Regions from separate parts of the Homo sapiens genome. Here region 2 is linked to region 1. The links come from fine-mapping of genetic effects on gene expression. A gene starts in region 1. The other region holds a variant in brackets. All regions are shown on one strand. Distances are from middle to middle. Region 1 holds the start of RDX (radixin). Region 2 overlaps RDX (radixin).

Evidence for each region.
Region 2: its variant is fine-mapped to the expression of RDX in blood mononuclear cells (TOPMed, PIP 0.91).

Annotation. Positions count from the first base shown.
Region 1 is chr11:110,293,729-110,298,728 of GRCh38, forward strand. RDX (radixin) reads right to left here and starts at 2,886. Exons shown (of 14, transcript NM_002906.4): 1 at 2,739-2,886. RefSeq lists an enhancer at 1,983-2,855 and silencers at 2,069-2,128, 2,259-2,358, 2,369-2,418, 2,469-3,268.
Region 2 is chr11:110,233,833-110,239,365 of GRCh38, forward strand. It overlaps RDX (radixin), which reads right to left. Exons shown (of 14, transcript NM_002906.4): 11 at 3,660-3,820; 12 at 2,267-2,359. Among named protein-coding and RNA genes, the nearest start is that of RDX, 60 kb to the right of the region's middle. The variant ATATAT/A (reference allele first, on the strand shown) is at 3,289.

The DNA of each region.
Region 1 (5,000 bases):
CCCAACAGTGACTTGCTTGACTTCCCCGATGCACAGAAGTAACACGAAATTATATTTATCTACACCTTACATATAAACTCCAGCAGCATATAGCTCAGTTTTCACAACCTTAATAAAACAGATTTTTTTAGACTTTGGCCTACAGGAAATATTGGTTAAAATTTGACCCCGTTTTTAAACATTAGTAGCATAAATTAAAATGCATTAAATTAAAAATGGATGAAAAAACAAGACTCTCACCATCATTTACCATTTCAGACTATTATATCAGATCACACATAGTAGGTTAAAAGATTGAGAACTGAAAGCAAAATAAAAATATATAAAGACTTTCACTTCAACAGCCTGCCAAAGATAAAAAATGAATAATAAAATCCAATTCTGGCCGGGCGCAGCGGCTCATGCCTGTAATCCCAGCACTTTGGGAGGCCGAGGCGGGCAGAACGCCGGAGGTCCAGGAGTTCCAGACCAGCCTGGCCAACATGGCAAAACCCCGTCTCTACTAAAAATGCAAAAATTAGCCGGGCATGGTGGCGCACGCCTGTAGTCCCAGCTACTCGGGTGGCTGAGGTACAAGAATCACTTGAACCCAGGAGGCGGAGGTGCAGTGAGCCAAGATCATGCCACTGCATATCACCCTGGGAGACAGAGCGAGATGGGCTAACTGGATTAAAATAAGCATCGGTTTCATTAAAAAGGACTAACTTGAAGATAAATCTTTTGACTCTAGCTCTTTAGAGGATCTAAAGTGACCTTGATGGACAGTGGAAGAAATCACAACATGGAATTCCTTGAGTAAAAATTTATCGACTTAAAAAAAAAATCCAATTCTGCTTTTGGGAACAGTGAACCAATAAACAAAAGACAACGCGTTCCCCATCCCGGAGACTAATGAGACTCAGCAAGGGAGGGAAACAACAGCAAAGTCTGTCATTTCTTACCAACAAAAGGAAAGTAATCAATTTGACTTTCAGTTAATTAATCACAATTTCAAAAAAAAAAACAAAAGGACAGACTCAACGTATTTTCCCTACACCCAAATTAATTACATCTATTCTACAGCTACTTCTGAGACTCTCCTACATACTCTTCCATGTGTGGGGATACAGGAGTGAACAAAACATTGTATGTGATTCCTAAGGTCAAGAACTCAACGTTTTTTCAATGCCACAATCAAATTCTGTCTCATTTAAATAAAACTGTAAAGAATGCCAATGTCTATTCATTCCTTGCTAATAATATACCAACTGTTTATTAAATTCCATCATATATAAAAAAGCGATTAAGCAAAGAAAGTCACTGCAATCGTCTTTACAGCATACGATTAACTTCAAAAGGAGTGTTTTACATGTTGCTGTATTTGAAGGAAAGTATTATTAATCTCTGGAAGATAAAGCACACTGGGGAAAGCAAAGAAATTCTGAAAATAAAAAACTGCAATCCTGAATATTAGTCTCCTTTCTCAAATCCAGTGATGCTGTTTTGGCAAATGGATCAAGCCATTATTTATCCAGCAACATGAACGGGGTAATTGTTCCTTCTTAGCTCCATCAGTCATATAAAAGAGTATTTAGTGTTCTAAAAAAAAAAAAAAAAAAAGAAGTATGCTCCTTAAACAATAGATTACAATGTCTATGTCAAAGTACTCGTTTATCAAATAAACCCTTATTATCTTAGACTTTTATATTTACATCCTGCCAGTCTTAGTGCCACAAGAATGCCATCGAGTTCCTCAGCAACGTGTCTTCCACCAAAATCTCAAATGTATTTTAAAATATATTTTTATGAAGTTGACTTTTAACACATTTCCAACCTAGTAACTACTCTTTAAGGAAAAAAAAAAACCACCAAATATTGGGAATGTCTGAAGAAACATGACATCTGTCTAGGAAGTGATGTAGTCTGTTTAAACTGAAAAAAAAAAAAAAACAAAAATGCACTGCCCCCTTTCAAAGTTAGTCCGGGAATTGAGTTTAGAATCCTTTAAAGGAAAAGAGGGATATCATGTACTGAACTTGTCTGGTGGGGTCTGAGACACTAAAACTGAGCGGCCTCAAGGGCCCGAGAAAGTTACAGGGCTCCGAGAGCTGCAACAGCAGCAGGTAGAGCTGCGGCCGGGAACCGCGGCCCTGGCCTGGCGGGTGCGAGCGGCGGGAGCGACTGGCGCCCCAAAGCCTGTCATGCAACATCCCCTTTGCCACTGGGGCGGAACGCACGCTCTCTAGTAATTTAACACCCCTCCTTTCAAACTGGAGGCCGGGGAACAAGTTCTAATAAATGTAAAATCGAATTCTACCTACGCTGAATATCTGGATTTTCAAACAACCCTTGGGACCATGCCAGCCCGGGCCCGGGGCCCAGTCCAGGCAGCGGGAGCCCACCGTCCCCAGGGCGCTGGGGGTCCGACACCGGCGCTGAAGGCAGACTCCGCGCCCCGAGGAAAGGAGAATCCCGCGGCGGCGAAGGTCGACTTTGGCCCGGCCAGGCACGTTCGGGCCGCGGCTCAGCCACGACTCGGGCAGGGCCTCGCGGCCCCTACCAGCCCCGGGAGGAGCCTGGCCGGCCGGGCCGTTACCACAGTGGCGCCTCGGCCAGCTGGGCGCGAGCGGAGGCGCGCCAAGCCCTGGCGGCGGCGCCACGGCCGGGCAGCACGGGCCCCGCAACTTCGCGCCGCCACCTTAGCGTCTCCGGAGGAACCGGGAGCGGGGAGTGGGGGAAGGGAGGGCGCCGCGCCTTACCCGGAGAGCGGGCGGCTTCTGCCCGCCGGCGTGTGGCTGGGGCGCTGCGCGGCGGCGCGGCTGCGACAGGGAGGGAGAAGCGGTGGTGCGAGCGCTGGCCCGCGGGAGACGAGAGGCGCCGCCGCCACCGCAGACAGCTCCGCAATATGGCCGCTCGGCGCCTCCGCGGGAAAAGGCGGGGCTGCCCGGCGCCCCCCCGCCTCCCCCTGCCGGCCGGCCGTCCTCGCGCCGCGGACTGAGCGCCAACGCCGCCGCTGGGGGCCGCCCCCGCCCCGCCCCTCCCGCAGGCTCGCAGCCGCAGGCCTGGCTCCGGGCGTGGCCGGGGGTCGCGGTCTGGGGCCGGCCAACGCGAGGTGGGTGGCTGCGGGCTCGGGAGCGCCCAGGGAAATAGGGCGAATGCGCCGGAGGGTCGAGCCCTTCCAGAGAGCGCTGGGCTCCAGCTAAACCTGCGGTCGAGGGAAGCGGAGCCGCCCAGCCCAAAGCTCGGAGTGTGCCCGCCGCCTCCCCAACGAGTGGAAACTTGAAACTCCCGCTGGTGCCAGCAAACTCACTGAGGGCGTTGCCGTCGCCCCCAGAGGAGGAATTCTTCCCAGAGGGAGCCGGGGACCAAATGAAGCGTGAGACTTGGCTGTTAGGTTTGAAGATCCTGGACTGGGAAGGAGAAAAGGGCCTACCTGAGCGGAATTTAGATTTGCAACAAAGAACGTTTACATTATTTTGGCAGGTTTTAGCCAACTAGAAAAACTTAATTTTTCAGCGACAATTTTCAAACTTCACCAAAACCTCAATGGATAAGACCCCAAATCAGGAGTGCAAATTTTAATCCAAGCAAGGATGTGTGATAATTTTTTATTACCAACGACATGCTTTGGCAGTTGGAAGGAGTTGGTTAGCAAGAAAAAGTTGGAAGTAGGGCCCCAAAGAGCCGCCAAACCTACATAATTCTAGATTTAGAGAAAGTTAGGCATTCGATCTTAAGACTAAGTCTAGCCCACTCACTTTAGTTAGTGGCTGGGATGAGACAGGAAGCTCCTGACTTCTGGATCAGTCTTCTGTCATCTAATCCATGCTGAGTCCCCTCAGTATTGTCTGCTGGGATGATTCAGGGAGCAAAACTTGCTATGAGTATACAAACAGCAAGCGCACAAAATCAGATTCGCCTGGCTTGCCCTGTTTGCAATACTTTTTTTAGCTTATCTTTTGTGAACAAACTTTAGATTCAAATAACAAAACGCCTGAGTATACTTACTTTTATAGGACAAATAACTCCTATACTTCCTGCCTTAGCATTTACCTTAGGTGAGACAGTAGCTTTTCCAGGAAATATCTGCAAATCACTTTCACTAGCCTGCCTCTTCAGTGAGTTTCCACTATTGCCCTTTGAGACCTCTCCGAACAATTAAAAGCCCCCAAGAGACTCAAGGGTTAAACTCAAGGGCCTTTAGATAGCAAATTCCTCAAGGATGGGAACCAGGTGTGTGACTTGCGACCAAATAGGTTCTTGTGGTTCTTAGGGACCACCAAAAGATCACTCCTTACCTCTCCCTAGGGTGCAAGAATTATCCTGGTTATTGTTCAGCCTACCACATCAGGTTGCAGGCATAGTCAAAGTATTACGTAATACTTCCCATGAAGTAGGTAAGAAAAAAAAGTATTATGTAAATTCCTACATAGTACACTAATCAAATGAAATTATATAACACACTTTTGCAACTGAAAGTGAAGGATTCACTGTTGTTGGTCAGGTGCCAGACACTGGTGTGAAATTCTTTTACATGACTGTCTCTTTTAATGGTTACAAAAACCCTCTGGGATAAATACTATTATTGACCCTTTAAAAAAAATCGATGAATAAGACAGCTTAAAAAGAGGTAAGTAATTTCCCCAATGTAACAAAACTAGGAAGTGGCAGAGCAGTGACCAAACCCAAATATATGTTTGACTCCAAAAGCCTTGATTTTATCCTATCTTCTGCAACAGCAAACAGACCAAAAATTGCAACATTTTAGTTGGGTATCCTATTAGTAAATATTTAAGTGAAAGATAACAGTCAAGGCTGGTGAGATAAAAAGGGTACTCTCAGACATGGTGAGTGGGAGTGTAAACTGAAATAATCTCTTTATAAAGCTATTTGGCACTGTGATTCAACCCCTAAGAACTTTCATGGCAGGGCATGGTGGCTCATGCCTGTAATCCCCGCACTTCCTGGGAGGCTGAGGCGGGCAGAGCATGAGGTCAGGAGACCGAGACTATCCTGGCCAA
Region 2 (5,533 bases), 60 kb before region 1:
CTCACACCCAATAGATTTTATTTGAGCCACAAGGGGAAAATGTAACCGAATAACGGAGGAATGAGACTGTCGTTACTCAAATCCAATGATCACTAAAAAATACTAATGGTGAGTTAACTAGATATTAAGTGTCTTCTGATATGATACAACCTGAAATATCTAACATCACCAATTATTTGGGTGATCATATTATCTTGGTTTACCTGGAAAAGTCCTGTTACACTGTTGTCCTGGTGTAATTATGAACAATACCCCCTTTTTCTCAAAAGTACTCCAGTTTAGATGTTCAATTATATGGAAGTCTCACCTTTGATGCACTGTAGTCAAAACATTTAATTTGAATTCCCCAGGTTCTAGATCTAACTTCTGGTTCAAAGGAAATACTGGAGTTAAAGGATAAGGTCAATGACACAAGGAAGTAACTAAACAAATATAGGAGGTGAGACATTCTGTAGGTCCCTTCAATAAATCAAAATAATAAAAAGAGAAACTGCCCTCCATTAAAAGAGACTTACAGCAAATACAGACAATGCAAAGTCCTCTGAACACTTGTCTGGCAAATTAGCTATGAGACTTTTTGGGAAATTCTTAATATAGTCTAATATTCTGAGATGAAAATTGACTAAAATGAAATAGTACATACAGTAAGATTTCATGTTGAATATATAAACAGGAAGTATCCTGGAAGAATATGTACTAAGGTTTTGCAGTATTTCCCCTAGTTTATGGGAATACAATTGTCTTTTGTGTGCATTTTCTAATTTTCTATAATTCACAGACTTGATATCTGTAATATGCTAATTTTTTAAAGTTTATGTGTCTCTAAATTTCATAAATCATCCCTAAAAGGGATCTAAAAAATTCTAATAAACAAGTAGAGTAACTGGGAAATTAACAGTAGCATTCCTTTTGTAGTTTTATTTATATATAACTAATTTTCAATACATATAAAATTACCCAATGAAATTTAAACTGCTACAAAGATTTACTTAAGAGTGCAAGAAAACTGTTTTCTGTATAAGTACATTTTATTGTAGAAAAATCATCTTCTAAAACTAAATATCATCTTTGGGGGTAAAAAAATTATCTTTTCAGTTAAGAGTTAATGTTGTTTGAATTAAACTCTCATTATCTTATATTCCCCCACTCTCCAACCAAAGCCTGATTTTACAATTGTGTGCTACTTTAGACAACAGTGGTTTCATCTACTTAGGACTCATATTAGAAATCTCGGTGTCAGCTGCACACAGTGGCTTACACCTACAATCCCAGCACTTTGGGGGCTGAGATGGGAGGGCTGCTTGAGGCCAGCAGTTCAAGACCAACCTGGGTTACACAGCAAGACCTCCATTCTCAACAAAAATAAAAATGATGGTGCATGCCTGTAGTCTCGGCTACTGCAGAGGCTGAGGTGGGAGGATCCCTTGAGCCCAGGAGTTCAAAGCTGCAATGAATTATGATTGTGCCACTGCACTCCAGCCTGGGACACAGAGTAAGACCATGTCTCTAAAAAAATAAAAATAATTCAACTTCATATCCAATCACTGGTTCCCATGCCTTTTTGTGACCACAAAATGTCTCTTATATCTTCCCATTCCTCTTTATTCTCATTTTCACATCCTCAGTTTGGGTCTTTATCTCTTAAGTATCCACTATCCCAATCCTTTCTTCACACTGATCACTACATGGTTTTTATAAAATCATATCTGATCATGTTACAATCCTGTTTTGAAATCTTCTAAGCCCCAAGTCAATCGATACTCCCACTGCCTTGCTGTAGCAGAGCATTTATTTAAAGCCTTTCACAATTCCCTATTATCAAACTTGAGGGCCACATCTCCTAACATTTCTGAACAACACTAAGCCTCGGCTGCTTATTGGTTATCCTCAAATCTATTATATACATTCATACTTCCTATACTCATTCAGTTCCCTCTGTCTAGAATGACTACTTCTTCAGTCTCTAACTATTCCCAATTTTACATCCCAATCTTTTGTACCCCCAAAATTTAATTCATTATTCAAGACCCAGCTTAAATGTATATGGGTCTCCCGACAACTCTCTGGTCCCCCAGAAATTAATCACCTCTTCTGTGTTCCCAAAGTACTTGGTTTATATCTGTAGATAGATATTTACAATACACATAACACGAGTATCTTTCCCACTCTAAATTATGACAGTATCTTACACTTATCACTACAAAGTCAGCATAATCCTGGGTATAAAAGCTATTCAATAAAAGCTAGTAAATGAATAAATGATTACTTTGTGTTGCCACTCAGTAGCTTCCTCTTCCTTTTTCTTCTTGGCTTCCTCTAGAAGTGCAATCTTGGCAGTGAATTCAGCAAGTTCTGCTGCCTAAAGTAAACAATATAATTCCAAAATTAAAATAACATATTTTGAATAATCTTATAAGTCAACAAAGTTTTAATGCACATGCTTAGGCTGTTTATGTTTTTCTTAGCCTTCCATTTAAAAAAATACAGTATTTCTTAAGATCTTAAATAGCTTATTTACAATAAGTCCTTTAGGTAATGAGCTAAGGAGACAAAATTAAAAAATTACTATTATTCTACAGACTAGTTAATCCTGCTTTCAGTAGCAGGAACTTAAAATGTGTAACTTAAAAGCTTTTTTAAAAAATTTCCATCAATAAACTATTTGTTAAAGTCCACAAAAGATAAAATATTTATCTAATGCTATATACTTTAAATGGCACTTTGTCAAATCATCTCATTTAATACCCCAATAATCCTAACAGGTAGTATCATTAACAGGTAGTATCATTCCTCCTTTTTTTTTTTTCAGACAGAGTCTCGTTCTGTCACCCAGGCTGGAGCCCAGTGGCACAATCTCAGCTCACCGCAACCTCCGCCTGCCAGGTTCAAGCAATACTCCTGCTTCAGCCTCCCGAGTAGCTGGGATTACAGGCGTGCACCACTGTGCCTGGCTAATTTTGTATTTTTAGTAGAGACAGGGTTTCGCCATGTTGGTCAGGGTGGTCTTGAACTCCTGACCTCAGGTGATCCACCTGCCTCGGCCTCCCAAAATGCTGGGATTACAGGCGTGAGCCACTGTGCCCGGCCATCATTCCTCTTTTCAAAGGGAGGGAACTGAGGCTCAGAAAGACCCAAAGACACATACATAGCAAGTACATGTGTGAACTAATATTTAAATCCAGGATCTTTTAAGTGACACGCTTACATCTAATTATTTGCAAGTCCACTAAATAAAAAAACCCAACCAATTATGGCCTCATAGGAACTATAACATATTATATATCTATA[ATATAT/A]TATATAACTATAACATATATCTATATTATATAACTATAACATATTAATTTATCTAAAGCAAAAGACGCCAACTGACTTATTACCGAACCTGTCCAATGTCAAAGTGAATCAGAACCTTTTGCTGACAGTAGACTCCATTTACAAATAATCTATAGAAAAATGCCTTATTCTTTTGTATTTTTAGGTTTTTGTTTAGGCAGAAATAAATTTTCTAGGTTTTTGTCTACATTTTGTTATTAAGTTACATGTTATCTTTGGCTTGCTCTCCAGAAAGCACAAAATGGTTGCTTTTCTTTTTTTCTTTTTTAGAGGGTTCACTCTATGCTTTTATTTAAACTTTTTTCTCTAAGAAGACAGTTCCTTACTAGCTGCTCCTGATTCTTCATCTGGTCGGCAGCTTGTTTTGCTATGGCAGACTTTGCCTCTTCAGCAGCTCGACGCTCCTTTTCAAGTCGTTCTGCTTCTTCTTTTGCTCGTTTTCGTTCTTGATCCAGTTCTAGAGCTTTTCGAGTCTGTTCTTCTAGTTCTATGAAATATGTGTATTCCCCCCAACAGTGATTAATTCCAATCATTCTCATTATCAAAAGAAGCTAAAATAGTAGCAAGAAATCAAATCTGTTCAATTTCTAAAAGTTAGCACACATGTAAATACATATATACCTCTTTGTTTTCTTGAGACAGGGTCTCGCTCTGTTGCCCAGGCTGAAGTGCAGAAGCTCACTGCAGCCTCGAACTCATGGGCTCGAGCAATCCTCCCGCCTCAGCCTCCCAAGTAGCTAGGACTACAGGCGCTATACCTCGTTTCCAACTTGGCAAAAGCCTAATAATTTTTAAAGAGAAATGAAAATCTTCTGCAATTCAAGTTATGTAAAAAGGCTACAAGCACGTAACTATTTTATTTTTAAAAAATAATCTCTCCATCTGAAGTTTTGACCTCAGTAAACAAATTGCCATGTTTCAGAAATCTATAATACATTTCAAAACTTCCATTAAGGTTTTACTTATCTAAACTAATAAGTAAATCCAAGAAATTAAGATTGAAAACAGTATTTACTGACCCCAAAATAGGAATTTTGATGTGATTATATGAATTATTGAAAAATGTGAGTTATTGGTATATATTCATTCCTAAAGCATGAAGATAAGCAATATTGGGAGATAAATAACATGAATTTTAATCCTTAGGTGCATAGATCACTAAATCAACTCTTTTCTTATTCCAATGAGTTGAACAGGAAAGGAAAATAAATTTTTAAGAGAGTTTAACAGTACTAACTTTAAATATTATTTTGACAATTATTTAAGCCCTGTGACAGAAGACAATAGAATGCCACCTAGTAAGACAGTACAAGGTCCTACAAAGAATTATTTTCCCTTACTGTATACTAAGAAAATCTATATGTCATGAAATTTGAAAGCTAACTGTAACTTACAAGCTTTTACTTACTGTTCTTAATTTTCTTGGTCTTGATCAGAACTAGTTGAGTAATTGCAGTTAAGACTTGGAAGGTTTTAGGCCAGGTGTTGTGGCTCATGCCTGTAATCCCAGCACTTTGGGTGACTGAGGTGGGTGGATCATTTGAGGTCAGGAGTTTGAGACCAGACTGGCCAACCTGGTGAAATCCCGACTCTACTAAAAATACAAAAATTAGCCAGGCATGGTGATGGGCGCCTGTAATCTCAGCTACTTGGGGAGGCTGAGGCAGAAGAATCTCTTGAACCCAGGAGGCGGAGGCTGCAGTGAGCCAAGATTGCACCACTGCACTCCAGCCTGGGCGACGGAGCAAGACTCTGTCTCAAAAAAAAAAAAAAAAAACAAAAAAAACACTTGGAAGGTTTTGAGAGGGTTGGAGAAGAATGACTCTTTGGTTAGGCTTTGGTTAGGCTCACGCCTGTAATCCCAGCACTTTCGAAGGGAAAGGTGGGAAGACCGCTTGAGGCCAGGAGTTTGAGACCAGTCTGGTCAACAGAGTGAGACATCATCTCTTCTTAAAAACTAAAATTAAAAAAAAAAATCAGTAGCTATTTATATATAACAACAGTAAACAATCTGAAAAAGAAACCAAGAAAGCAATTCCATTTACCATAGCCAAAAAAAAAAAGTAAAACACCTAGGAATCAATCTAACCAAAGAAGTGAAAGAAGGACATTGGTCTAGGCAAAGATTTTTTGTGTAAGACCTCAAAGGCACAGGCAAAGAGAGATAATGGGTGTTACATCAAGCTAAAAAGCTCTATAC